7 linked regions of the Homo sapiens genome follow. The protein of the gene in region 6 interacts with the protein of the main gene of each other region in a biochemical or structural test. Each region holds a gene or a part of one and is shown on either strand. Other genes may lie near its edges. The genes, in order: ARHGEF12, HTRA4, LRP4, JAG1, NRXN3, PDZRN3 and MTMR1.

What was found.
Region 1: the proteins of PDZRN3 (region 6) and ARHGEF12 interact in a test that uses a peptide from one of them, tested with the Homo sapiens proteins (one large-scale study listed by IntAct).
Region 2: the proteins of PDZRN3 (region 6) and HTRA4 interact in a test that uses a peptide from one of them, tested with the Homo sapiens proteins (one large-scale study listed by IntAct).
Region 3: the proteins of PDZRN3 (region 6) and LRP4 interact in a test that uses a peptide from one of them, tested with the Homo sapiens proteins (one large-scale study listed by IntAct).
Region 4: the proteins of PDZRN3 (region 6) and JAG1 interact in a test that uses a peptide from one of them, tested with the Homo sapiens proteins (one large-scale study listed by IntAct).
Region 5: the proteins of PDZRN3 (region 6) and NRXN3 interact in a test that uses a peptide from one of them, tested with the Homo sapiens proteins (one large-scale study listed by IntAct).
Region 7: the proteins of PDZRN3 (region 6) and MTMR1 interact in a test that uses a peptide from one of them, tested with the Homo sapiens proteins (one large-scale study listed by IntAct).

The regions. Positions count from the first base shown.
Region 1 is NC_000011.10:120,471,935-120,476,178, forward strand, and holds part of ARHGEF12 (rho guanine nucleotide exchange factor 12), read left to right. Parts: intron 1-1,115; coding exon 1,116-1,193; intron 1,194-2,625; coding exon 2,626-2,701; intron 2,702-3,405; coding exon 3,406-3,573; intron 3,574-4,244. UniProt on the Homo sapiens protein: May play a role in the regulation of RhoA GTPase by guanine nucleotide-binding alpha-12 (GNA12) and alpha-13 (GNA13). Acts as guanine nucleotide exchange factor (GEF) for RhoA GTPase and may act as GTPase-activating protein (GAP) for GNA12 and GNA13.
Region 2 is NC_000008.11:38,983,652-38,986,863, reverse strand, and holds part of HTRA4 (serine protease HTRA4 precursor), read right to left. Parts: intron 1-3,212. UniProt on the Homo sapiens protein: Serine protease.
Region 3 is NC_000011.10:46,856,036-46,860,113, forward strand, and holds the end of LRP4 (low-density lipoprotein receptor-related protein 4 precursor), read right to left. Parts: intron 3,281-4,078; coding exon 2,948-3,280; 3' UTR 682-2,947; downstream 1-681. UniProt on the Homo sapiens protein: Mediates SOST-dependent inhibition of bone formation. Functions as a specific facilitator of SOST-mediated inhibition of Wnt signaling.
Region 4 is NC_000020.11:10,642,797-10,646,886, forward strand, and holds part of JAG1 (protein jagged-1 precursor), read right to left. Parts: intron 3,289-4,090; coding exon 3,175-3,288; intron 2,674-3,174; coding exon 2,560-2,673; intron 2,461-2,559; coding exon 2,347-2,460; intron 2,184-2,346; coding exon 2,067-2,183; intron 1,589-2,066; coding exon 1,561-1,588; intron 1,068-1,560; coding exon 982-1,067; intron 1-981. UniProt on the Homo sapiens protein: Ligand for multiple Notch receptors and involved in the mediation of Notch signaling. May be involved in cell-fate decisions during hematopoiesis. Seems to be involved in early and late stages of mammalian cardiovascular development.
Region 5 is NC_000014.9:78,168,982-78,173,672, forward strand, and holds the start of NRXN3 (neurexin 3), read left to right. Parts: upstream 1-1,391; 5' UTR 1,392-1,693; intron 1,694-4,691. UniProt on the Homo sapiens protein: Neuronal cell surface protein that may be involved in cell recognition and cell adhesion. May mediate intracellular signaling. Functions as part of a trans-synaptic complex by binding to cerebellins and postsynaptic GRID1.
Region 6 is NC_000003.12:73,614,762-73,619,005, forward strand, and holds part of PDZRN3 (E3 ubiquitin-protein ligase PDZRN3), read right to left. Parts: intron 1-4,244. UniProt on the Homo sapiens protein: E3 ubiquitin-protein ligase. Plays an important role in regulating the surface level of MUSK on myotubes. Mediates the ubiquitination of MUSK, promoting its endocytosis and lysosomal degradation. Might contribute to terminal myogenic differentiation.
Region 7 is NC_000023.11:150,727,896-150,732,139, forward strand, and holds part of MTMR1 (phosphatidylinositol-3-phosphate phosphatase MTMR1), read left to right. Parts: intron 1-2,213; coding exon 2,214-2,315; intron 2,316-2,629; coding exon 2,630-2,713; intron 2,714-3,574; coding exon 3,575-3,724; intron 3,725-4,244. UniProt on the Homo sapiens protein: Lipid phosphatase that specifically dephosphorylates the D-3 position of phosphatidylinositol 3-phosphate, generating phosphatidylinositol. Could also dephosphorylate phosphatidylinositol 3,5-bisphosphate to produce phosphatidylinositol 5-phosphate.

The sequences.
Region 1 (4,244 bases), on a different chromosome or scaffold from region 6:
AAGTCCACTTTATTACAGTATTGTTTGTTACAGAAGAGTTGAAGTAACTTAAATGCCCATCAGTAAGGCGTAATGAAATAAATTATAGTTTATTCAGAGAGTTTTACATCCTGTAGTCATTTATAAAAAAATGAAATAACTCTCTATATGTGCTAATGTGGAACAGTCCCCAAGATATAAGTCATACACCACACACACACACACGTGGGGGAATACGTATATGAATGTATTCTACCATTTCAATGAGGAATACATATAGGAATACCAAAGGAATGCATATATGAATATATTATGCTACCATATCTTGTTTTAAAAAAGGACATATACACACAACATGCACAAAGACAAGCATACTTATATATACATATATAAATAAATACATATCTGTTTGCATAGAATTTTTCTCAAAGGCTACCCAAGAAATGGATATTAGTGATTGCTTCTTTAGGGAAAATTGAGGGGGGTGGGGCAATAGGACAAGGTTAGAGGGAGACTTTTTATTTTTTGCCTTATATAGCCATCTGAATTTTGTACTGTGTGCATGATTTACATATTCAGAAAATAAATATAAGCTAATAAGAGACCAATGACTTTGAAAAGAAGATTGAGAAAGAAAAGCCAAAGAGGCAGGAGGAAAACTAGGAGAGTATATTATCACCAAAGCCACGGGAAGAGAGTGAGTTTTCAGTCCTGTCTAGCATTGCAAAGAGCTCAGTAAAATGGAGATTTTTTTTTTTTGAGATGGAGTCTTGCTGTGTCGCCCAGGCTGGAGTGCAGTGGCGTGATCTCGGCTCACTGCAAGCTCCGCCTCCCAGGTTTGCACCATTCCCCTGCCTCAGCCTCCCAAGTAGCTGGGACCACAGGCGCCCGCCACCATGCCCGGCTAATTTTTTTTTATTTTTAGTAGAGACGGGGTTTCACTGTGTTAGCCAGGATGGTCTTGATCTCCTAACCTCGTGATCCACCTGCCTCAGCCTCCCAAAGTGCTGAGATTACAGGTGTGAGCCACCACGCCTGGCCAAAATGGAGATTTTAAATGCCAAGTTTGATTCAGAAATAGAGAGGTCATTAATGACCAAAGCACTAACCTTGGTTCCACCCTGCCTAATTTTCAGCGCCTAGAAGATTATCAGCGTCGCCTTGATACCTCCAGCCTGAAGTTGTCAGAGTACCCAAATGTTGAAGAGCTCAGGGTGAGAGATGGTCTAATCATAATTTAAAAAATAAAATAAAATTTGCTAAAGACCTGGCAGGTAATTAACATCTCAGTGGGAATATACGTCACCTGAAGGAGTTCTTGTATCGTAGATTATCTGTATTTATGATTTTTTTTGCTGCCTTTTAAATGCTTGATCTGTATGAAATTAGTTTTTCATTAGAGGAATATCTTGCATAAAACTGTAATATTACATGACAGCAATTGGCAGGAGACTAAGGGACACTAATTATTATAAAATTTAATTTTATTGTGTTCTGTAGTTTGTTTCAGACAGGGTCTTGCTCTGTTGCCCAGGCTGGAATGCAGTGGTGCAGTCTTGGCTCACTGAAGCCTTGGCCTCCTGGACTCAGGCAGTCCACCCACCTCAGCCTCCCTAGCAGCTAGGACTATAGGTATATGCCACCATACCCAGCTAATTCTGTGTTTTGTAAAGACAAGGTCTCGCTGTGTTGTCAGGTTGGTCCAGATTTCCTGGGCTCAAGTGCTCCTTTCTCAGCCTCCCACAGTGCAGGGATTACAGGCATGAGCCACTATGCCCAGCCTGTGTTCTGTAGTTTAAATAAGGGTAGGACTGTTTGGTAACTTTCCAGATCATTTAATAACACAAGATAGCATACTATTTTCTCATGAGGCTCTTCAGAAGCATAAAAGTTGGAACCATTACAGGAACGATAGTAAAATGTTTACTAATTGCCACTTCTAGTATGTGGGCTTATGTGTTAACTTTTTCGGATTTTAAGTGTTTTTGTACCATTTCACTAGGTGGTGGTTTTGGCAGATTTATTTGGTGGCTGTTAAAATAGACTTTTATGTCATATATTAATACTTCGTCAACAAGCACGTAAATGTGCTTATTCCCCTTAGCTTCCAAAGAATGAGAGTTTTCTAGAGCTGCTAATACTAAAAGATGATTCTCTTACTAATAAGTTGTTAATATTTAGACCAAGTCTGAGTAGTACCTGGACTTTTCATGAGTACTATTTCTTAGAACTTTCTTTGAAATTAGAGCCTTGGAACTCAGAAGCCACTTTCTTATAGACAAGCATATGTACCATGCTCATCCAGTTATTCATAGGAAAATTAAAGGATACGTTGAGAATCTAGTGACTGAATGTTTGTAACTTGATCTTCATAATCTGTTATCATCTGTTTAGAGTGAGGTTTGAAGATAGTACTCCTGAATGTTCTTCTGCAAGATACCTTTTCCTTTTTAGAAAATTGTATGCAGATTACTTTAATATGGCTTTTGTGCCATTTTCAAGAACTGACAAATAGCAATAATGATAGTTGAATGTAAATGGTGTATTTTATATTAAGAATTTCTTTAAAAGAGACTGTATTATATAGATAATCATGTTACTGAGTGCTTGGAAATTATTTGTGCATGATTTTCTTTATTTTGCCAGAATTTGGATTTAACAAAAAGGAAGATGATTCATGAAGGGCCATTGGTTTGGAAGGTGAATAGAGATAAAACTATTGGTAGGTCTGATATTGTCTTTTAGTTTTGGGGAGAGTGGCAAAAGGGAAGGAATAGGAAAGTTTCCTATGACAAAGGGAAGAGGAGAGAACCATTCTCTCAGCAGTTTGCAGTGCTACCTCGTGTTATTTGTACATTTGTAGATCTGCTTGTGTTATTTCATTATATGTAAGATGTGTTAAATATTCATTTAGGAATGTAGTGGAGAACTGATTTAGTCCTATTTCCATCATTCTTATAGTCTAGTGAGTCTTTGTATGCTTTGTAAGCTTTCTTTAGACCAGTACATCTTAAACTGTCTGTGATGAGGAACCGTTTTTGTTTTTTCAGAAACAAGGTCTTTCTATGTTGCCCAGGCTGGAGCACAGTGGCTAGTCACAGATGCAGTCATGGTGCACTGCTGCCTCGAACTCCTGGGCTTAAGGGATCCTCCTGCCTTAGCCTCCCTAGTAGCCGGGACTATAGGCGCACAGCACCACACCCAGCTTGTTGTTTTTTATTTCCTATTGGTCACAGACTGACACTTCAGTGAAATAAAATAAAAATGAATTACTGAAAATGAAATTTTAAAAGATAATATACAAGTCAATTTTTAAAATTTTGTAGCTTTAACAGAAATAGAATTCCTCTGTTGAATCATTATAAAGTTAATCAAACGCGTCTCCATTTCTGTACTTACCATTTTTTTCTGCACTTTTATTTCTAGATTTATACACGTTGCTGCTGGAAGACATTCTTGTATTGTTACAAAAGCAGGATGATAGACTGGTTTTAAGGTGTCATAGTAAGATTCTGGCATCTACAGCTGATAGCAAACACACGTTTAGCCCTGTCATTAAGTTGAGTACAGTGTTGGTTCGACAAGTGGCAACAGGCAAGTATGTCCACTGAAGGATACTAATTTCCAGATTCATTGTGAAGTTGCATAAGATACTCGGTGCTGTCTCAATAACACAAGTGGCATAGAGTCTTGCTATTTTTATATTCTTAAGCAAATTACATGAAATTTACTGCTTAGAAAGAGACCTAAGAGTTTATACCCCAAAGTTATTAGGGTGTCTCGATTCTGTGAACAGTTTTCTGCATTTGAAAATTTTTATGCTATTACTTTGGTTCTTTATGTTCAAATCATTGATAGATCCCAATGAAAAGCCTTTCATTTAGGGTGGTATGTTTTTTGATTTGGTGAGAAAAAAATCAAAAACCAAAGAGACGGATGTAGTGTTGATTAAAAATCAAATTTGACTGGCAAGTTATATTTTAACTCTATTAACAACGGGGTCCCTTTTAAAACTTGTTAGTTTCATGGTGGCAAAATAAATTTGTGACCTCTTTTCTCCACTACTCACTGAATATTATTAACTAACAACTTAGCAAAAGTGCAGTTCAAAATAAATGCAAAAGAGTAATAGCATTTAATCTGGTAATTTGGATTTATTTATTTTTTTTCTTTTGAGACGAGGGTCCCACCCTGTCACCCAGGCTGGAGTGCAGTGGTACAACCTTGGCACACTGCAACCTCCACATCCCAGGCTCAAGCAATTC
Region 2 (3,212 bases), on a different chromosome or scaffold from region 6:
ATGACCTTTTTCTGTGTCATGCAACTTGTGAGAGGGATTTCATCCTGGGTCTTTCAGACTTGGGAACCCATCTTCTTGCCACTAAATCACTCTGCCTGTCAGAAACAGAAAAGCAGCCACCAAAGCAGGATAATAGAAGGGTTCAGCCAGGGCCCACATCCCTGCTCTCTGCTCTCTGATTTACTGCGTTCTACAAGTTAATGAACCTCTTTGTACCACAGCTGCTTCCTCTATAAAATAATACCTATATCATAAAATGTTGGGAGCACAAACAGGTGTATAAAACACTTCAAATAGGCCAGGAGCAGTGGCTCACACTGTAATCCCAGCACTTTGGGAGCCACAGGCGTGTGGATCACCTGAGGTCAGGAGTTCGAGACCAGCCTGCCCAACATAGTGAAACCTCGTCTCTATTAAAAGTACAATAATTAGCTAGGTGTGTAATCCCAGCTACTTGGGAGACTGAGGCAGAAGAATCGCTTGAACCCAGGAGGCGGAGGTTGCAGTGAGCTGAGATCATGCCATTGCATTCCAGCTGGGGCAACAAGAGCGAAACTCAGTCTCAAAAAAATAATAATAATAAAAATAAAACACTTCAAATAGTGCCTGAGATATAGTAAAAGTTTTGTAAGTGCCAGATAGTGGTGTAATTATCATTATATTAGGTATAAGTCAGTGAAAGCCAGAAAGAATAGATTTGTTTGAGACAGGTTCTCACTCTCTTACCCAGGCTGGAATACAGTGGTGCAGTCATGGCTCACTGCAGCCTCAAACTCCTGGGCTCACATGATCCTCCTGCCTCAGCCTCCCTACAGGCACCTGCCACCACACCCAGCTGATTTTGTTTATTTTATTTATTTGTCTTTAGAAACTATGTTGCTCAGGCTGGTCTCAAACTCCTGGTTTCAAATGATCCTCCCACATCATGGCATGAGCCACCATGCCCAGTCCTGATTTCTGTTTATCAGCAACTTCCAGCACTAATTTTCACATTTTAACATACACATGAATCACCTGGGGATCTTGTTAAACACACAGATTCCGATTCAGTGGATCAAAGGTGGGACCTGGGATTCTGCCTTTCCAACAAGCCCCAGCTGAGCTAATGACGCTGGTCTACAGACCACATTCTGAGTAGCAAGGACTTAGCCGAAAGAAATAGCTTTGGTCTTGAACCAGAACTTAAGGAAATGGGGGAAGAGTGGAGCAGAGCAGGAATGAGAAAAGTCCAGAGAAACCAGGGACAAGCCAAATTTAGTAACATGAGACCTATGACTGCTGTGCTGAACAGTGCCCTCTGATTTCACTAGGGGGAAAGCCCCAGTGAAAGTGGTGCCATAATCTAAACAGATTACTGAGCTCTTGAAAAATAAAAACAATGAGAAAGGGATAATAAAGAAGTACAGACCGCGGGCGGTGGCTCACGCCTGTAATCCCAGCACTTTGGGAGCCCGAGGCAGGCGGATCACAAGGTCAAGAGATGGATACCATCCTGGCCAACATGGTGAAAACCCATCTCTACTAAAAATACAAAAATTAGCTGCGCGTGGTGGCACACGCCTGTAGTGCCAGCTCCTCGGGAGGCTGAGGCAGGAGAATCACTTGAACCCAGGAGGCAGAGGTTGCAGTGAGCCGAGATCGCATCACTGCACTCCAGCCTGGTGACAGAGCGAGACTCCGTCTCAAAAAAAAAAAAAAAAAAGAAGTACAACAGAAAAGCCCAGGAGAATGATATTTGTAGGACAAGCCACCTCTCTCAGTACTTAGTATTAAATGTTTTGAAACAACAGTGAAATCAGCTGGAGAACCTTCTTTTGGAAGCTGTCCTAGCCTTTGCTTTATTACACAGGTCTTAGCGCTGGCCTCTGATATTGTCATTCAGAGTTCAAAGAAAAATGTAGGTTTTGTGAGGTTTTGGTGTAGTTTTTTTTTGCTTGTTTGTTTGTTTGAGACAGGGTCTCACTCTGTTGCACAGGCTGGAGTGCAGTGGCATGAGCACAGCTCATTACAGCCCAGACTCAGGTGATCCTCCCATCTCGACCTCCCCAAGTAACTGGGACCACAGGTGCAAACCACCACACCTGGCTAATTTTTGTTTTTTGTTTTTTGTTTTTTTAAATGGGGTCTCGCTTTCTTGCCCAGGCTGGAGTACAGGGGCGTGATCCCAGCTCACTGCAACCTCTGCTGCCCAGGTTCAAGCGATTCTCTGACCTCAGCCTCCCAAGTAGCTGGGATTACAGGCATGCGACACCACACCCAGCTAATTTTTATATTTTTTAAGTAGGGATGGTGTTTCACCAAGTTTGCCAGGCTGGTCTCAAAATCCTGACCTCAAGTGATCTGCCCACTTTGGCCTCCCAAAGTACTGGGATTACAGGCGTGAGTCACGGCACCTGGCCTAATTTTTATTTTTTGTAGAGACAGGGTTTCACCGTGTTCCCCAGGCTGGTCTCGAACTCTCAGGCTCAAGCAATCCTCCCACCTCAGCCTCCCAAAGTGCTAGGATTACAGGGCTGAGCCAACATGCCCAGCCGAAAAATGTGTTTTAAAATACCTAAAATATGGCCAGGCGTGGTGGCTCATGCCTGTAATCCCAGTACTGTGGGAGGCCGAGGTGGGTGGATCACTTGAGGTCAGGAGTTCGAGACCAGCCTGGCCAACATGGTGAAACCCTGTCTCTACTAAAAATACAACAATTAACCAAGCGTGGTGGCGGGTGCCTGTAATCCCAGCTACTCGGGAGGCTGAGGCAGGAGAATTGCTTGAACCTGAGAGGTGGAGGTTGCAGTGAGCCAAGATTGCACCACTGCACTGCAGCCTGGGCAACGAGTGAGACTCCATCTCAAAAGAAAAAAAAACTATTAATGAATAATTAATAGTTACTAATACCTAATAGGTGTTAATCACTTAATAGTTATTAAGTAATAACTATTAATGTTGAAAGGGTAGATTTGGGAATTCCTAGCCAAATTAATTTAAACTTATGCTATTAACTCATAACATGAGCTCTTCTTAGACTATAGAGAACCACCTCCCTCCCAAAATACAAAAAAAGCCTTTATAAGTACCCAAGTCTGAATCAGCACTGTCCTGTAGACAATAATGCAAGCCACATACATAATTTTAAATTTTCTTGTAGCCACATTTTTAAAAATTTTTAAATAGATGAATTTAATTTAATAATATATCTTATTTAATACAATATATCCAAA
Region 3 (4,078 bases), on a different chromosome or scaffold from region 6:
ATGAATGAATGAATGAATGAATGAATGAATGGGGATATTATCCTATAGATGGTGTGTGGTTTAGAAAATCAACTATTGAGACTTGACATGAAATTCTACATCGGGCGTTGAGATTAACATGATTCCCAGTTTTCACTGAGGGATATCACATCCAGAGAACCTGAGAAGGGATCCCTAGCTCCTTGTTCTAGCCTTGAGAAGTAGTGGATGAGCTATGAAAAGACAGCTTTTAAAAATAAATGAAATCCTAGTGATAATTTGATCCACTCTCAGACTAACTATGAAAGTTGACTAAGATCAAACAGAGCTAGTGGCAGATCTGGGACTGGAATTAGCCCTCCATGTCCCCAGCTCCAGTACTTTTCTTACTACATGAGATAGTCTTGCCAGTGACCATCACTGCAAGGCAAAGTAAAGTTCTGTAACAAAGACCTAGAACAGAAATAGAAGATACATGGTATACATGCCATGACATTTCCTTCCAGTGCACAGAAGAGATGTCACTAGCCATATGACATTCTTCCCATTGGGTGCGAATAGGCCCTCAGGCAGCCACTACCAACCAGTCAGAGTCAGCACTCAAGAGGAAACCCATCTACCATTCCTCTTCCAGAGGAAATAAAGGTTTCATCAGTCAAGGAACTCTGGCCTCGACCTGTCTTCTCCAGATGAGCTGAAAACTCCAGCAGGAACCTCACACTCTTTATTGCTCTTCACTGTGCCCACATCCACAAAGGACTTAAAAGTGATGTCTGTAAGCAGGTTTTCCACAGCATGGGTCTGCCAGACAGAGCAGGTGCAGGATTAGTCATGACTCCAAGCCAGGCAAGGTGATTAAGAAAAGCTAAATTTATATTAAATTATCATAAAGTCCTAAAATACTGAACATAGTGGTTAAATAACTCCAGAAAGTCCAATCTCTCCAGTGAGTAACGTTAAAACCATTACACATGAGCATGGGAGAATCGCTTCCATTAGTTTAGGACAGAGAGATTTTGCTTTTTACAGAGTAAATCAGTGCTCAAATAGATACTTCCTCAAATATGTCCTTTCTACATTCTGAACAGCCCAAGTGCAATAAGATCCTTCCCCCTTTCCAATCAAGAAAATGCCACTTTTCTACTTGCTCTTCCTCCCCAGACGTGAGTCTAAGGACCCAAAGTGCTCACTCCTTTACTGCTTGTTAAGTGTAATGTGGGGAGGCTCAGAACTGGGGCTGACGCTACTGAGAGCAAGGCTAAGGGCCTGGTATCTCTCTCTAGCAGTCTTAGAACTGACTAGAAAAGAATTGATCTTGTCCTTTTTCACTTTGGTAGCTGATTTCTCAATACCAGTAACCACAGGAGAAGTTTCAACTCAGGAAACTTCCCCTAGAAATTCTCCCCTCCATTCCCAGCCCCTGTTGTTCTCTCCTGCCACTTCTAATTCCTGGGGGAGAAGAGGTCTGGGTCTGCCATGGGCTAGGAGGGCCTCATCAGTGGTGCTCTCTACCTTCCTACTCCTTACCCACCTCTTTGTATTTTTATTTATTCAGCCCTCCCACCACAGGACTTTGGAGATTGCTGGTGCCACAAGGCTTGGTCAGAAAAAGCAAATTAGGCAAAAAAACAAACAAAAAAACCCCACGAAGAACAGCTAGGGAGACGTTTTAGGGCAAAAATAAGTCTCAATTTCCCTGATACCAGGCTGAGACACGTGCCCTTTGTGTGAATGAGCATGAACCAAGTGATGGCATCCCACATGGAAACTAAGCCCCTTAGCTGAGGGGACAGCTGGAAGAGGAACATCACCACCCCGTAGCCACAGGCTTGCTGTCCACTAACTTAGATCCCTGAGCACTTGAGAAAGAACATAGGAAGTTCAACAGGAAGTTTGACCCTCATGGATACTTCTCTTTAGGCCCTGGGTTTCCCAAGTCTCCAACCTGATCGTTCTTTCTGACCATTTATGACAACTTCTGGTTTTTCTTTGAAAGCTTGTTTCTAGGTCTCTTCCCCAGAATCCCAGGACATGAGGGAGAGAGGGGTCAGGAGGTATACCATATTTGGTCTAGGCAGAGCTTCTTAGACTTTTCAGAGACTCAGCCCCCAAGGCCTAACATTCACTCAAGCCACTGGCTCACAACCTGGTTAATTTGAGCAAAGACTTAGGAAAGGTACTGGCCAGTGGTGGCACCAGGAGGGAATTCCTATTAGCCAGTAGCCTTGTGATAGGGGACCCAGTTATCTGAATGTAGAAACAGCTCCAGACATTCTAGGAGGAGGAAGAACAGCCTGAGCCACCCCCATCTCACCAGTATCTGCTGCTGAAAAGGCAGTGTCTCTTAGGGCAAGAATAATGTCCACTGCCAGCAATGGACCAGACACCCAGATCCAACTACCCCCCAAAGCTTTTTCATGTTACTAACACACTTGAGGCTGGAGGTTTCCCAGATGCCCATACCTGCTGGGCTGATTCTTCCTTCTTCTCTCAGCCTCTATCCTTCATCCCTGTCTTTACCCACACCCCCATGTCCCAGCCCCTGATGGGCAAGTTCTCTCAGAGAAGCAGTCATGCTGGCTGTGATGGGGCAGAGCGCAGTCCTGGGTCATCAGCTGCATCAGCACTGAGAAGCAGGCACTGAGGGTACTGGGGAAAGGGGAGGTGGAGCTCTACGCTGGTGAGGAATCACGAATAAGCAGTTTCAGGGGGCCCAGGATGGAGTACAAGATGTGAGGTTCATGGTAAAATCCAGGTCTAAATTCTCGTGATGTGCCATCATTTCTTGTGCACAGGTAGTTATGGACTCACGTGGTAAACAGCTCCGGTGAAGGCTTAGGAACAGTTATGGGGTGGGAGGAGGAGGAGGACAAGCACACAGAAGCGGGGCCTGCGGTGTAAGCGAGCACAAGGACTAGACGTCCATAAAGGAGAAGGAACAGGCAGGCAGGGAAGAGAATGTGGGCATTTAGACCTGGCTCTCTGAGGAGAGCTTGCGTTCATGTTTCCAGCCCGTGTCTGGCAGAGAGCCTCGTCTTTCTGGAGTGGCTGCAGTATGGACGCTGCTACACTCAGACTGCTCTTCCTGTAACAGCTGCTCCGTCTCTGTGTCATCCAGGGAGCCAGAGCTGGCCTGGATGGACACCGTGTCTGTCTTCATGCATACATGATCCCGGAGGAGGCCCCCCCGTGAGCTTCGCAGTTGCTTGAGGTCATCCCACTCAGCATCATCCCCAGACAGGAGGCAGATTCCCTCTACGATCTTGATCTTCTCCTTGGTGTAGTTATGGTCAGGCCCTCCCTAGGGTGGAGAGTGGGCAGATATGGTCAGTCAGTTGGCCTTCTACAAAGGATCCCATGGTAAACTGAAAAAGGAAGTGGATGGGGTAAGAGTAGGAGTGAAGCGCACAAAAATCCCACAAACAAATGGGGAAATGTGATTAAGACAAGTGTATGAGGCCTAGCCTAAAAGGGGAGAGGCAGCTGTGATAATTATTACCATTACCATACAGGAGGAGGGAAAACCATGGCTTCCGGTCCTGCAGCAGCCACTCACTGGCTTTGTCACCTTAGGCAAATTATTTCACATTTCTAAAACTCAGTCTCTTAAGACTCTGCAGTGTGAGGAGAGTAACAGTATCCACACCTCACAACCAACTGCTGTCACCTTAAATGAGATGATACATGGAATGCAGTTATCAGGGAGCTTGACACAAGATGCACTATAACATGTTAGCTATGTTACATTGTTACTGTGGTTTATTAATGGGACATCATGCTGATATAAATCATCAAAAGCAATTGGCAAGAGCAATTAAATGTACATTTATTCAGGATTTTAAGCTACTTCGGGTGCTAGTTTGTATCTCTTTTTTCTAATTTTGTTAAGGAGAAAACTTGGGAGGTAAGACAGGGGACTCTAGAAAATCCTCTTATCTGGCCGGGCGTGGTGGCTTACACCTGTAATCCCAGCACTTTGGGAGGCCCAGGCGGGCAGATCACTTGAGTTCAGGAGTTCGAGACTAGCCTGGCCAACATGGTGAAACCCCATCTCTACTAAAAATACAAAAATCAGCTGGGTTTGGTGGCGGGTGCCTGT
Region 4 (4,090 bases), on a different chromosome or scaffold from region 6:
TCCTGAGTTCTAACAGTGGAGAACCATTTTGGGAGGCAGCAATTTTTAATTTGATTCCTTTGACAGTGCAATTTACAGCAAGCCTGGCAAAGTTTCCTGGAAGGGGTCAGACAGTAAACATCTTAGGCTTTGTGGGGTATATAGTCTCTGTCACAACTATCCAACTCTTGTGGTATCATGAAAGTAGCCATAGACAATACATAAATGAATGTGTGGCTGTGTGCCAAGAAAACTGTATTTATAAAAACAGACAGTGGGCTGGATACGGCCCCTGGGCCACAGTTTGCCAACTGTTTATTTAGAAACATGAAACAGATACAACCTGCCCCCATCTAGTGCTGAAGACTAGTTAATCCCAGACTTGGATTTCAAGCACCAGTAAAATTTCAGACAATTTGGGTACAAGAATCAAACCATAACTACTCTAGCACCTTTTTTGTTCTGTAAGAGAAAGGGCTTGTAAAAAAGTAGAGAAAAGGCTCAAAATAATATGCTTTAAGCCTCTTGAAAAACTGCGTTGCCTGCCCCTATTTTCCTGTTTTAGTCATTTCTCCAGGGCCTGATCAGACCCAGCACAGACAAGCCTCTGGAAGCCACAGTCGTCCTCCCTTCCGTTTGTATTAGCTTTATCCTATACCAGTGTAGCTGTGGTTAACATCTGCTTGCCCATAATTTCATGTTAGTCATGGGGAAATGCACATACTTTCTTCAGGACCCCACTGTAGATTAATCATCAGATTCTGTGACTGGCACTCTCTCCCCAAGAACAAGGAGGGCTACACCACCCAGGGAACTACCAGCAGGTACCTGGGAGGATCCAGCCTGGCATATCTTAATCCCAGCTGGAGGAGAGAGATCCTTTGCTCTATGAGAGCTACTTAAAGGGAATGGTGGCTTTGTTTTTAAAGATGAAAGTCTTGGGGTGAGGCATGGAATGAAGCGGTAAAGCCATTGGGAAAACCAGACGGAGACAGTCCTTACTTATTCTGCAGTCGGGCCCAGCAAAACCCGGGGCACATTCGCACCGGTACCAGTTGTCTCCATCCACACAGGTGCCGCTGTTGTAACTAAGAAAGCAAAGACCACCTTGGTTACCAACCTCCCAGTCCATTACTCTGGCTGCCAATCACTCACATGTCACCACACCAGTTACAGTCAGTGGCTCTCACCCCATGGCCGTTGCCTGGGGAATTTTAAAAGAATACTGATGCCTGGGTCCCACCCCCAGAAAGTCTAATTTCACAGGTCTTGGTTGCAGCCCAGGCAGCGGGATTTTTAAAAGCTCCCAGGTGATTCTGGTGTGCAGCCAAGGTTGAAAAATCACTGCTCTAAATGAGGACACAACCTGGCTAATTAAAGTGTGGTCCATGGGGCAGCAGGATCGCTTCACCTGGGAGCTTGTTAGAAAAGCAGTCTGAGGCCCCACCCCAGACCTCCTGACTCAGAACTTGCATTTTAAACACAATCCCTGGGTGATTCTCACACACACACACACACACACACACACACACACACACACGATAGTGGATGAGTGCTGGCTTAAAAGGATGTCACACTTACCAGGGATGAGGGCTGCAGTCATTGGTATCTGCAAAGAAAAGACAACTTAATAGTGAGGACTTCAACAGGGAAAGCGGTCTTAGCCCTAAGTAAAACCACCACTTATTTTCCTAATACCCAAATGATAAAGTCGTAGTTAACACCAGCAAAATACCTTTGCTAAATTGGAACCAGGCCCGCACCACACTTAGTTTCATTTGCTGTGGGACACATGTACACAGGAAGAGGCCCTGGTAGGGGATAGGGGTGGGGGTGAGAATGGAAGGAGACAGGCTGCTGGTCAGACCCAGAGCTGGGAACTGAGACGCCATCTGTCTCCACTTATCTTATTGGCGACTTTCTCATGCCCAGGTCAGGGCTGTATCCCATCAAGTCATTAATGCAGACCCAGGTGATACAAAAGCAGACATCAAACAGCTCTGCTTCTGGTTTCCATTGCAAGTCCCCAAGGGTGTCAGGATCTGCTCCGACAGCCCTGGGAGAGTTCAAGGGGGGAGGACACTCACTCTGAGCACAGATGGGCCCCTCCCAGCCTTCCTTGCAGACGCACGTAAAGGACTCGCCGTTGACCACACATGTGCCCCCATTATGGCAGGGGTTGGGCAGGCAGCTACTGTTTCGGGCTATAAAAGAAGAGCAGACACGACCACCCTCCCTGAGTATCCAGAAACAGTCTGGAGGGGCAAGAACCAGGCCCAGAGAAATATCATAAGCTCCAGGGGCCAACCAGCAGACACGCCCAGGTGGCCATGCCCACTGCAGATCCCACGTGGGGCATAAAGTTACCTATGTTACAGGTTGTTCCTTCCCAGCCGCCAGGACACATGCACTTAAAAGCATCCCCCTCATCATAGCAGGTGCCACCGTTGTTGCACGTGGCCTCATCACACTGACTGTCACCTGGAGGAAAATATTTCAGTGTGAGTCCCAGTGGCCCCCTCCCACAGAAGACAGAGGGAAGGGTCCCAGAGATAGCATCCAAGGCCAACTACCACTTACGTGAGTGGCAGGTCTTTCCTTTCCACCCATTTTTACAGTCACAGTAGAAGTCATTGACCAGGTCGCGACACGTGCCCCCATTGTGGCAGGGGTTCTGGCTGCAGTCATTAATATCTAGAATCAAAGGGGAGACAATCGGCTGAAGACGAGATCCAGGACCATTCACGACAGGCGAGAGCCAAGCCTTTCCTACTGCTTACATCCAACATCCTATTCTGAGAACAGCCACAGTCGTAGTACTTTAACACAATCAGGCTTTTCCAGGAATAAAGGAGCTCCCAACTGGGTTACTTTGAATGCCACAAGTTAGGCAAGATGTGGGGTGGGCCTCTGGAAGTCCCATGGAAATGAAAGTAGAAATATGACTTTCCTTGCAAGCAGGAATATTTATTACACAGTCTAATTCTATAGGTCCTCAGCAGAAGCTCCTCCCCATAAGCTATCATCAGGACTCATAAATGCAAATGAGACACAAGTGATACTGTCCCAGTGCAGAAATCACTGCGGTCTTGCTTCCAGAGATTTCCAGTACAAAGAAAGTTTTCCCACGTTGAAGTGGGATCCCTCCAACATGACCCATACATCCCAGAGCTCCCCAAAGAGTGGCAGACTCACTGGTTTCACAGTAGGCCCCCTCCCAGCCGTCACTACAGATGCACTTGTAGGAGTTGACACCATCGATGCAAGTGCCACCGTTTCTACAAGGGTTGCTCTCACAGTCATTAATATCTATGAAACAAAGTAAAGCAAAAAAAGAACTGAAGGACTTGTGAAGCCATAGACAAGCACTGTTCAGCAGTTTTCATGGCTCCCTCCTGACACAATGCACCTGGCACCTCCACCTGCTACCCTCCATCAGGGCTGTTTCTCAAATTAGACAGGCGGCTTATCAAGCAGAAGCTTCCAGAGAGTGCCTTACCCACTTAATGCCCTCACATGGGCATTTAGTCACCGGTACTAGGTGAAAGTGGGGAAGAAACTCCTACAGAAAAGAGGAATCACCCAACCTAGCAACATTCCAGAATGTTCCAACATAGATATGGAGGCTCCGAGGCAGAGTGATCTGGTAAATTGAACACGACCTCAGTCTTAGATCCCAGATGTAAGGATAAGTCTCAACCAGTCTCCCCAGCCTTACTGTTTCTGATTAAAACAATTTCAACACTGCTGGGCATGGTGGCTCACACCTGTAATCCCAGCACTTTGGGAGGCCAAGTTGGGGGTCGGGGGGTGGATCATCTGAGGCTGGGAGTTCGAGACCAGCCTGACCAACATGGGGAAACCCCATCTCTACTAAAAATACAAAATTAGCTGGGCGTGGTGGGCGTGGTGCGCATGCCTGTAATCCCAGCTACTCAGGAAGGCTGAGGCAGGCAGGAGAATCGCTTGAACCTGGGAGGCCGAGGTTGTGGTGAGCCGAGATCGTGCCACTGCACTCTAGCCTGGGCAACAACAGCGAAATTCGGTCTCAAAAAAAAAAAAAAAACTTTCAACACCAATGATCCCAGGGTGGGCCAGGGGCAGAGGCAGG
Region 5 (4,691 bases), on a different chromosome or scaffold from region 6:
ATGATTATTTTCCCTTTGCTTTATAGAAACACATTTCTGTCCTCCTCCAATGCTTAGTGGAGTCCTTGGGGTTCAGACCTTGATAGATTCATTTTGTTTCTCATGAGCATGATGCCGGGTACATGTGCTATTAAAGTTTGCTGGGTCAGGAAAGTGCTAGGATGCTGCAAGAACATCCAGTAAAGGGCAGAAATATAAGAACTACCATCCTTGGCTGGAGGCAATAGAGTACTGTGGCTAACAGGCAGGCTCTGGAGTGGGATAGACTTGAGTTCAAATTCATTCTTAGCAGCTTCCAGCTGTGTAACCTTGGGCACCCTCTCTAAAGCTTCAACTTTTAAGACTGTGGAATGGATCTCAACTGTCAAATAGCACAAACCTCACTGGACTGAATGAGATGACCCACGTAGTGGCATATGGTAAGTGCTCAACAGCTATTAGTGGATTGGTGCTGGTCCAAGGGAGGACATGCCAGTGCAGCCCTTAAAAAGGGAGCTGGAGAAGAAAGGAGTTTGGGGCTGCATTTTCACATAAGGTGCCAGGGCCTGATGCTGAGCAAAACCTTTGTATTGGGTGCCACCGACTGTCATCTCTTGTTTAGGTTTGACTGGGGAAACGTTTCCACAGACATGAACTAGTTTGTCAAGGCTGGCAAGGGATTTTCAAGGGTTTAGGGGTGCAGTCTAGGCTCAGAGCTCAGAGTGCAAGCCACAAAAGAGAGCCATCTTCCTGAGTCACCAAAACACTTGATTCGGGCCTCTGACCCTTAGCTGGCAGCCCCTTAGGATAGGATGGGCTGTGCCTGGGTCTGTCTTTGCTGCTAGGGGCTCTGAGAGAGGAAGCCCCATTTGTCACTTTCATTTCTATGTCCCCAGCCCCTTGCAGTATGCTTCATCCTAAGCAGGCATTCAAAGTGCTTGTTGAAGGAATAGATTTGTGTCCTAGTTACAGCCCTGACTTCCACTAGATGCTCAAAGATTGCCCTGATTTTGCAAGGAAGAGCAACTACTCAGGGAAACTGAGGCACACTTGTAGGTTAGAGTCCCTCAGTCTGCAAGGAGACACACACATCCTCAGCAGTGGGGAAGTGGTTTGGTTACTGAAGCTGTAAATAAGAATTTTGTCTTTATATTAATTCCTACTCTGATTCTAGGGAAGAACTCTCCTCTCAGGCTGGAGTAAGGGGAGAACTGAGCTCAGACACTGCCTCTTAGTTGTGGGGGCTGCAAACTGCCCCTCCCTCATGATATCTTCTCAGCTGTTTGCAAAACAGTCAGGGAGGAGGTGAAGCCCTGAGCCAGGCGGCCTGTCTGTCTCTTTAAATGCTGGGGTCTGTGTGGGAGAGGGAGGGGCCGGCTCTGGAGTGCGTGAAATTCCTGGGCTCCTCCAGCAGTCTCAGGCTCAGCGCTCAGCCCTACACATCGCCTCTTGCATGCAACTCACAGAGAGGGAGAGGCAACCTGTCCTCCCCTCTCTCAGCCTCGGCATCTCCAGCCACCAAGGACCTGCTTTTCGCACCTCCAACAACCCCTCCCTTCTACCCTGCCACTCCCTCCCAGAGAGAAAGGAAAAGGAGAGAGAAAGATTCTGGAATTTGAACCTACCCAAAGAGGAAACATACCCAGCAAACTCAGTTGATTAAACATCAAACAGACATACAGACAGATCCCAAATCTTCTGTTCAACTGGAAAGGTAAGGTTTGCGGGGAAAGGAAGGCAGTCAGGGCATGAAACAACTCAAGGTTCTTGTCCGTTCTGGGAAGAGGTTGCTCCTGAGAGGGTAGAAGTTTTCAGTTGGGAGCAACCAACCTAGATTTTCTTTTTTGAATACTGTATCCATGAGCCTTGGCTGACTGTGGAAATGGCTTTTCAACTGCCTTTCTTTTCCTTCAGTTTCTCCTGGAAGTTGGGTCCTTTTCCTCCAGATGTTGGAAAAGTCAGAGAATGTTTTAGATTTTTATCTTCTTCTTCTTTTTTTTTTTTTTTTTTTGAGTCTTTCTCCTATTTGCTTGAATTGTTAGTCTGAAATGATGTGTGCTCATCACTTCATTTTGGGCAGATACTTTTTTTTTGACATTTTGTAGTCACTTCCCCCCTCATTTATTCATTTATTTATTTGGGCTGGTTAAAATGAGAAACAGAAAGGACACTCTGAGGATCACAAGAAAACAAAATTGAATTGAGACAGGGATTTCCCTAGCTGTTGAGGAATTGACGTGTATGTGAGTGTGTGTGTGCTTTTTTTTTTTTTTTTTGAGGGGGTGTGAGGAGGTGGTCCTAGAGTCTAAAAATTCAGGTTGGACTCCTGTCTTGTGAAGGTGGGCATACTTGGAGAAGGTGAAAAGGGAGTGTGTGTGTGAGTGTGTGTGTGTGTGTGTGCGCGGGTGTGTGCTCCTGTTTGGATCGGTTACAAGGGAATCTTCCTCCACTGCCTTCCATTTGTTTATATTAATGATTTAGTAGCAGGCTTGCCTGAAAACTTCCACTCTGTGTAAGCACTGTGGGTTTTGCAAGCTCTCAGTGACCTTAAAGCCTGGTTCGATGTATTGTTTTTTCCAGGCATTGTGCTGTACCCAGAGTTTCAGCTCTTTCCCTCTCTCTTTTTTAACCACAAAACTTAACTGCTTTAGAAACATCATCCTGATGACAAGGAAAAAAATGTGTCCCCCCACCCCCCATCCCTTCTTAGGCCAGTGATGTAATACCAACCTAAGGGCTCGGCTGCTTTGCAGGTGACTTACCCTGTGATTACTTGTTAAAAAAAAATAAAATTTTCCCTTCCTCCATTAAATGTCTGCCTCTTTTAATTTGGATGTAGAAATATCATCATGCAATGAGAACATCATATTTTTGCTAACCATTATTGGGGTTTAGGTAAAGTAGGATTGCTCTTCTCTGATCTTTATTGTTAATACTTTTTTTTTTAATGCAAAGGTCAGAGATCATTGAGAGCTAGCTTAGGATGGAGCAAGATAGAGTCAGGGCAAATAAAAGAGCTGGTAGGACAAGAGCTGTCTTCTCCCCGCTTCCTTCGGTTCCCGCTTTGGGGAGATAGTTTTTCTTTTACCACTACAAGCCACCCCAACATTCTTCTTTCTTCCTCTCCGCTGGGTCCTGTGGATGGCCCTGGGAGGGAGAGGGGGCACTCCTTGTCACACCTGGAGGATGGTGTAATTTTGGGGGTCAGATGACCGTTTGCCTTTGTGATGAAGGTTCCAGTGGAAATTTGAACTCCCAGCACGCTGCGTGACTTGGTACCCAGGATAGTCTATCTGGGGGCACCTGGAGGTTAGTCTGGGGAGGCTGGAGAACTGGCTCTTTATTAATTTGCCGTTCTGGGTAGAGCCTTCCTTCATCGTTCAAGGGCTTCTGCATCGCCTTTCAAGTTAAAATGGTCCCGCTGGTTATGATGGGCAAGTTTACCTAAGGGCTACTGGGTATGTGGCGGAAGGATGGAGGGGAGTGAGAGGAGGCAAGGCTGGTATTTATTTTTTAATCTTCGGGCTTAATCTGCCTAAGTCATATGGGGCAAACGATATTTCAGACGGGTGCTGGTTGTGCAGATATTCCTATTGTTTGATTTTTTGTTGTTGTTGGGGAGTGGAGTAAGGGCTCTTGGCCCATTTTCTGCAGCCTGAGGTTCATCCTGCGAGTCAGTCTTCCTTCTGGAAGGGGGGGAAAAGGCTGGACACTGGAAGTTCGCTATTAAAGTGAGCAACAGGGCTGGGTTTATTTTTTAAAAACAACCGGACTGTGCGAATGCCCTTTTCTGGAGCTTTCTGGCCCTTTCTAGTGAAATAATAATTTAAAAAAAATTGCTTCTTGAGAAGAGGAGGGGGCAGAAATTAAAGGGATTCTAGATTTTGAGAGACAGCTACGTCTTTGCTTCTCTGGTAGTTCCCTATTATTAATTATTGGGGTTTTGACGGCGTTCTGGCCTCCGTTTTTGTTGATTTCATTTTAGTGCTGCGTTTCTCCTGACTATGTTGATGATTTGCTGCTTATATAAGGGAAAGGATGTATTGAGGTGGACTGATGCTTGGGGTTTTGAGATCGGCTACTGAGATTGGGTGGCGGTTGGTGTGTTTGTCGATGTGCATGGTAGGAAGGTCTTTTCTTTTGGGTGGTAGGGGATGAGAGAATGGTGGGAGAACGGTAGATGAGATGCTACAGCAAACGGGGATGTGGGGGGAGACGGAGGTGAGGTTGGAAGTCACCGGTTTGCAGAATTTCTATTCTGCACCCCCCTTTCTCTCGCTCCTGGAAAAAAAATCCATTATCTATAAAAACACATTATTCTTCAATTGGCCTTTTAGAGAAAAAAAAGAGAGAGGGAAGGGAGGGGTTAATTTGGTGAGGGGGCTTGGTCGTAATTAGCCCACTGCTGCAAAACTGAGATACAGAAATCCATCGGCACCAGCTTTGGGGGCATGGAGAGGCAGCGGAGAGATGGGGGACGGGTTGTCAGTCTTGGATGAACAGTGGAGCGGTCGGGTTGGCGTCTGGGCATTGTGTGTGCTTGTGTCTCTGTGTGTGTGTGAAATTTTTTCATCCCACCACCAATCTCCCCCTCCATCCTCCCCCAATTCTGCCATGATCTTGCCTTCTATTTCCACACACTGCTCCCCCCACCCTAGGCGCACCCCCCCTTCCTCCAGCCCTTTCCATCTTCATGAAAAAAATTCTGATTT
Region 6 (4,244 bases):
CTTTACTGAAGAATTGCTGATGTCTTCACTCCCTATGCTCAGATGCTTTTGTCCTCTTTGTAGTTAAAACTTTAAAATTCTTAATGGTGAAGCAGTTTGGACCAGCCCTGCCTTGTAATTCAACCCAGCTCTAAGGAAGTGATTCTTGCAGAAGAACATAAGAGGAAACTGTTCCAAAGCCTAAGACTGAAGGTAGTCATAAGGACGGTGCTTGAAATTAAGTTGAAATTGGATGAGACACTCAACAAAAGTATTAATAGGATGTTTCTGTCATCAGAAAAAGGTGTAGAGAGAATGAAGGGAGACAAAGGGCATGGGGGAACAGGTAGAAAAAAAAACAAGAGCTTTTCCAGAGTCATAATATCTGCACAATAGTTCACATGGTCCTAAGCCAAACGAGATATTTTTGAAAACTAATATGAGAAGACGTTTCAGTACTTTCCTCGTTTAAAAAAGTCTGCTACTATATTTACACAACCTGAAAAAATCCATAAATGTCTAATTTCTTATTTCCACGAGCTTGATTTCAAATTTTCTCTCTCATTTTTGTCACTGACTCATCTGCTTTTCTGGTGAACAACCACAAGCAATGCTTCACCAAAAATGACACCAACAAACCTTTAAGGTGTTACAGCATCTTAACACTTCCACTTACTTATGGGGTGTGCTACGATCTAAATGTTTATGTGCCCTCAAAATTCATATGTTGAAATCCTAATCCCCAAAGTGATGGTATTAGCAGGTGGGGCCTTTGGGACGTGATTAGGGATTAGTGCCCTTATAAAGGGGCCCAAGAGAGAAACCCTCACCCTTTCTACTATGTGAGCACAACAACAGAAAGACAGCCATCTGTGAACCAGTAAGTGGGTCCTCACCAGACCCTGAATCTGCTAGCACCTTGATCTAGGGGTTCCTAGCCTCCAAAATTACGAGAAATAAATTTCTGTTGTTTATAAGCTATCCAATTTCTGGTATTTTTGTTACAGCAGCCTAAATGCACTAAGACAGAGTGGTTTCTGGTATTTCTGTTACAGCAGCCTAAATGGCCTAAGACAGAGTGGTTTTCAAATGTATACATCCAATTACCAACCAGAAGCATTTTCTTCCCTAAATAAAGAAAAAAGTGCTATAGTTTGGATGACTGTCCCCCCAAATCTCTGTTGATATCTAATTCCAACATTGGAGGTGGGGTCTAATGGGAGGTGTTTGGGTTATGGGGGTGGACACCTCATGAAGAGATTAATGCTGTCCCAGGGTGGTGGTGGGCAGAGAGTGAGCTCTGCTCTATTAGTTCTTGCAAGAGCTGGTTGTTAAAAGAGCCTGGAACTTCTCTCCTCTCTCTCTCCATTGCCTCCTTTCTCTCCATGTAATCTCTGCACATGCAGGCTAGTCTTTGCCTTCTGCCATGATCGGAAGCAGCCTGAGGCCCTCATCAGAAACTGAGCAGACGCCGGTGCCATGTTTCTTGTGCAACCTGCAGGACCATGAGCCAAACAAACCTCTTTCTTTACAAATCACCCAGCCTCAGGTATTTCTTCATGTCAACACAAATAGACTAAGATAGAAAGCAAGGCTACTCATCTAAAAAACCATAAGTGCACTTGCTTACATGAAGGTAGGAGGTTTTTCTGGCCAGTCTCTCCATAGCTTTGTTAATTTGGGTGGGAAAAACATAAACAACTCTGTAACCCATATGTTATTCATAAGCTTTAGCCCTCCACCTTTACATCTTAGCCCAAATGAACTTGAATATCCCTCTTTCACACATTTCCACCACTGCAAAACAGACAGAGGATAGAAATCCAGAGAATGGGTTACTCAGGGGCAGCAGGAGGCTTACAATGAAACCAAATTATTGAGTAACAATCTCTTTTCTTCTAGATAACAACTGCTTTAAATTCCTAAACTTTCTTCAGTGATTTATTTGAAAAAATGTTAAAATCCTACAGGTGTCCAGCACTTAATAGACAGTCAAGAAATGCTTGATAAGACTTACTGTGCCCTTATGTACATCATCTCATTTCATCTTAATAACAACCCTAACAACAGGCATATTATGATCCCATTTTAGAGGTGAGGCAATTAAGGCTTGAAGGTTAGAAGAGCCTCCCAGGGGCCCTCAACAACAGGGCAAAGAGAACACATGAACCCGAATATTGCTGATCCCAGGATATGGATACTAACCACACGCAATACACTAGCTCTATTCAGGGCACCTTGGAGTCAGCCTGTGGACCCAACGCCTGCATCTAACCTTCACCCACGATCTGATGGGACTTCATCCCTCACCTATCCAAACACAGCAAAGACACGGGGCACCTAAAAACAGCTTTTAGCAAAATACTAGGGGTGATCTCCTGCCCAGGACTCTTCTCTGCACACACACTGCTGATGCCAGGGGAAAAGCTCATCACTGCCCTTCCTGGGGATGGGGTGGCTGCAAGGCCTGCAACATACAAAGATTACGCGGTGCCTCTGCTCTTTAAATTCCCTGTAAATATATGGATGGAATGAGTGAGAAAGATGGCTGCTCAGGTCCATCTGGTAGTTATTTTCTTTACAAGAGTAATCATTATGTTATACCACTTCCCTTTCTTATTGTAACAGGCTTATTAGGACACTATTAGTCAAGGGGAGACAGAGGCTAACCCATGGCATAAAAGCTTGGGTGAGCAAAGAATAGTAAGACTTGTGCTTTCAAAGGCATATGTGGGTGTCTGATTGATCCCCTGGGTTAAAGCTGCTCAGTTTTACCTTTCTATCCAATGGTGCCTACCACAGGGCCTGGCACTAGGGGTATGAGAATGTGAGGAGCTAAACTGCAGAATACATTTGGAAGAACTTCACTTCATTCCTACTGTTAACCACTCTTAAAATTACCAGGATAAAAATTAAAGAGCTGTTCTCATATTCCATCCAGGACATCATCTCTTTTTTGTCTAAATCTATTTTTTTTTTTAACAGGGTCTCACTCTGTTGCCCAGGCTGGAGTGCACTGGCACGATCTGGTCTTGGCTCGCAGCAACCTCTGCCTCCAGAGTTCAAGCAATTCTCCTGCCTCAGCCTCCCCAGTAGCTGGGACTACAGGTGTGCACCAGCACACCTGGCTAATTTTTGTATTTTTAGCAGAGACTGGGTTTCACCATGTTGGCCAGACTGATCTCAAACTCCTGACCTCAAGTGATCTTTCCGGCTAGGCCTCCCAAACTGCTGAGATTACAGGCGTGAGCCACCATGCCCAGCCTAAATCTCTTTCACAGCCAGGATCTGTTTTGTTTTGTACTCCATGTGCTCTACACTGGACCTATGTAAATGGGAACATGGTATGGGATGAAAACATTTCATGGACCAGAAGCCAACAGGCAAACTAACATGAGCCAGTGGAGGACACTTGGCAAGTTATTTAACTTTCTGAGCTTCTGTTTTTTCATCTGTAAAATGGAAGGAAAGAGTCATGGGTAAGAGCACCGACCTTGCAGGGTCTTTCTGAGGATGAAATAAAATAATGCATGTACACCTCCAATCCAAACAGTACTTGGCATACATAATAATGGTGCTTTGAAAGCCTGTGTGAGACTTCAGAGAAGGGCACCGCCCCAGGAAAAAATTCTTTTCTTATTTTGGTAACAGTGTGAGCTCGGAGATGGGCCACACTGGGTTCAAATCCCAGCTCTACATTTAGAATCTAACTTCTAGCCTTAATCTTTCATAATCTGCTACTCCCATTAAAAAAAGAGGTCTATCTAATGAAGAACATGGAGAAGATAATGTATGCACATACAGAAAGCACCTTAAGTGTATGGCACCCAGTGGAACTCAATGAATATTATTTTCTTTTCTTTTAAGCTCCTTGGTCTACGGTCCAATGCATAATTGCCTTATAAATAGATTCTTACTCATCAAATATTTTTATAGCGAGGCAAGCACCATTTCTGAACACAGAAAGAGCCACTTACAGACAAATCTCAACAGAATTGCCAATTCAAATTGTCTGGTTATACTCATTTAATCCAGTGTAGCTGGGTAACATATTTGTAAAACAAATCCTAATTTTCCTTATAAATCACAGAAATGAAATAGAAGTGACAATCTGTAACTTTTTTTTAGCAGAAGTGCGCTGTTTTGTTAGATATACTATGGAATGGCCCTGTGCAGGAGCTTTTCAGAAACAAAATATACTTCATGGTGAATACTCTAACAGATACATTTCAAAGTGTTTGGACATCTGGAACACCTTTTGATAC
Region 7 (4,244 bases), on a different chromosome or scaffold from region 6:
CTAGTAACTCAAATGTTTTCGGGATAGCAACCTCTTCAAATCTCATATCGAATTTAAACTATTATGTAACCCTTTGAAGTAAACCTTTTCCATCGAAGTCCAATTGTCCCTTGGTATCGGTGGGGGATTGATTCCAGGACCTCTGCCTCAGATACCCAAATCCATGGATGTCCAAGTCCTTTATGTCAAATGATGTAGTATTTGCATATAACCTAAGAACATTCTCCCATATACTTTAAATCATCTGTATATTGCTTATAATAACTAATACAGTGTAAACACTATGTAAATAGTTGTTATACTGTATTGTTTAGGGAATAATGACAAGAAAAAATGTCTGTGCATGTTCAGCACAAATGCAACCATCCTTTTAAAAAATATTTTCCATCTGCAGTTGTTCGAATCCTCCAATGTGGAACCCATGGATAGGAAGGGCTGACTGTATTTCTAATTAACGTGGACCTATAACCTAAGTGATTGTTTGTCACATCTCAGAGAAGTCAAGTGAAAAGCAGAGACCAATACATTTCCCCAGTTTGTTGTTTTAAGACTACGTTCAGAACAATGTGGATGGTCAGAGACTTCCTAAAGGGACAGCAGTGGCCCATAAATTCTGTGATTAAAAATGAGATTAAGTTTCTTGGCTATCTTGGAATTTTTATGTTGAGCTGGGCTTATTTGTTTATTTTGTACCCTTCTTCTAATAATTTAAGTAGAAATGTGTGTGATAACTTTAATCACGAAGTCATGTAGGACCCACTCCTAATTGATGTATTTTATTCCCAGTGACTTGACTTTGGTAATGTTTACCAAAAACCCTACCTGAAGTACCAGAAAAGAGATCCTGCCTGCAGGATCATCAGCGCCCCTTCCAAATTTTGGGTTAGGATTCCTTACAATCTATTTATTTTGATTCAATCTCTGAAGATAGCTCCCTCTGGTTGGTCCTAGACTGCGTTCAAAACCATTTTTTTTTTTTCCAAAGAACCCTTTACTCTTCCAGATCATGAATCTGTTGGCTTACTAAACTCACTTTAGTCACTCCCTGACAACTGTCCTTCTCAGGCAGGGTTCCCCATATGGAACAATGGCAAGCAGAGGGGTGACTTGATCGGTTCTGCAATTTTGAAACATGTCGTCCCCTTTCTCATGACGCTTGAGTATCTTCCCATTATCCTTAGACTAAAAGAAAAACTCTCCTTACAAGACTGCTCTGCCTGACCCACTTTCCTCTGCAGCTTGGTCTCGAACTGCCCTCCTCTCATTCTGGCCATCCCAGTCACATGGGCTTTCCTTTGGTGGTTCATACTTGACACACCCACCCACACACACACACACACACACACACACATCCCAGAATCTTTGCATGTGCTCTTTCCTTAGCTTGTAAGCAATCTTAAATAGCAAGTCAGCTCAGTCAGCCACCAAGGTGTATGTGTGTAGCCATGTAGCTTAGAGGGAGGGCATGTCAGGAAATTATGTTGCTTAGGCAGGCATCCTGGGGCTCTTTTACTAAGATATTTTTATGGCTGGGGTGAGCATTTGCTAACAACTGCTTTAAATGTTCTCTAACCTAGATTACTAAGGTAATGCTCCCAGCCTTCTCAGATCATGCCTAAGAGCTTTACAAGGTGTGGGGTTTATTTTTTAACAGGTGATATACAATTCAAAAGATACAAAAGCTGTGTATAGTAAAAAATCAGTCTCCTTCCACCCACCACCCTGCCACCCTGTTCCACTCATTTCAGGCACCCACTGTGGCCGATTTCTAATGTAACCCTCCACAGATAGCCTATGCACATGAGAATGTATGTATAGTCCTTCTTTGAAAACATAAGTGGGGCCAGGCGCAGTGGCTCATGCCTGTAATCCCAGCACTTTGGAAGGCCGAGGCAGTTGGATTACGTGAGGTCAGGAGTTTGAGACCAGCCTGACCAACATAGTGAAACCTTGTCTCTACTAAAAATGCAAAAATTAGCCGGTAGTGGTGGTGGGTGCCTGTAATCCCAGCTACTCGGGAGGCTGAGGCAGGAGAATTGCTTGAACCAGGGAGGCGGAGGTTGCAATGAGTGGAGACTGTGCCGTTGGAGCAGGATAAAGTATAAAAGGAGAAATGAATTAAAAAAAAATAATTTCCTTATTTATGGCACGGTATCTGGCTTATAGGTGCCTGATGTATGTTGAATAACCGAGTTTTGCTAATTGTTTAACAGGATATGAGGAACTTGCGGCTTGCTTATAAACAGGAAGAACAGAGTAAACTAGGGATATTTGAAAACCTCAACAAACATGCATTTCCTCTTTCTAACGGACAGGTAAATACACCAGAGTAAACCTTTTCTGCATGCATTTGTGGGGGTCCAAATATCCTATGTTTAATTATTCCTTTTTCCAGAGGTTTTTTTTTTTCCTCTCTTTTTTCCTCTGTTGGTGACTAATATTAGAATATTTGAAATTTGTCAGTTCTGGGTAATGCTTAAGAAAAGCTGCTACTTTGTTGCTGTAAAATTTACAGACTAAAATAGGAATCTTAATACACTCAGCTCATATTAGAATGAAAAGCTTTAATATTGGGTATATGATATAAAAAGAAATAGTAACATATGTGTTTTGTGGTTTTTGTGTCCAGGCACTATTTGCATTCAGCTATAAAGAAAAATTTCCAATTAATGGCTGGAAAGTTTATGATCCAGTATCTGAATATAAGAGACAGGTAAAGTATATTGCTTATCAAACTGAAAATAATAGGTTGAGCATCTTTTTCTCTTCTAAAAGGTTAGAAATGATGTGGTGGAGAAGAAACTTTTTCGAACAAGTTATGCACAGGTTTAACTGCTAGCTTATAGGTTCTCCATCTTTCCTTGATTCTCTCTTCTCCCTGTGCCAAACCTTAGACTTTGTCATGTTTGTTCATCCTGTTTCCAGAGGGTGAGTGGGACTCAAGGACAAGGACGGGTTTAAAAACCAAATTTGCCAGATGGTTTTTATTAGATGTTCTGGTAAAGAATTGATGAGTAAGGATCCAAACCACTGACTACAGTTAGATTCGAAGCATGTGGTGTGACTACATCTGTCTGATCCAGTGTTCCCGGGTCTGGGAACTCTTCAGTGCATTGTCAGCTTCAAATTATTCCACTAAGATCTTATTTTCATGACGTTTGTTTCATGACGTTGTCTCTACCTTATATTTGGTATAATGTTTTACGTTACTTATTTTAGACATTCGTAAGAGGTATCTGTGTTTCTAAAGGACTTTTGAGTATATTCTCAAAAATAACAGAGCTCATTATTTATAGAAAATAGGACAAGAAATATATAGAAATGTGATTCTAGCGTATAATTTTCATGTTTTAGTATGGTTTGGATATTCTTATGCTTCTTTAGATTTTTAGAAATGTCTAGGAAATGGGTTTTACCGAATAAATATATATATTGACTTTTAAGTTACAATAAACAATAAATTATAAACGGATTTTAGTTGCAAATAAGAAATGGATGTACTTCATGCTTAGTACTTTTTCAAAGTGTAAAGTCATGCATTTCACCCTCTTCTTCTTTCTCCAACACCTTACAGGGCTTGCCAAATGAGAGTTGGAAAATATCCAAAATAAACAGTAATTATGAGTTCTGTGACACCTACCCTGCCATCATTGTTGTGCCAACTAGTGTAAAAGATGATGACCTTTCAAAAGTGGCAGCTTTTCGAGCAAAAGGCAGAGTCCCTGTAAGTAATAAACATTGTCATTTATATAGGAATATATATTGCGTTAGATCTAATATGGAGAGATTTAAGACAAAAAAGAAACTAGTGAACAAAAATGGAAAGCAGAAAAATAAGCTTATAAACCTGAACATACCTTTGATTCTCAACAAATACCTAATTATATAAACAATCTGTTTGCTATGACTCCCTCTTTTACGATTTCCTATAACTAAGTATAAGGGGAACTTCAGTCATACCCTCAAAAAGTAGTAGAGAATGACAAAGGAGTAGCAACAACAAGTTATCATGCTATTGTATTACCAGTTGGCATTGCTGGTTTCACTGAATCATCCTAGAGAAAATGCTTCTTTCTTAGATACTGAGCATGATGCCATAGCTGCGTGGGAGGGACATCATTACAGAAGTAGTAGCAGACAGCTGGGAGTAATGGTTTGAGCCCAGAGTTTGCATCTGTTGTAATCCTGAGTCACTTGGCCACTGGAGGAAAATGAGAGGTGGGGTGGCAGAGTGTCAGATTTTA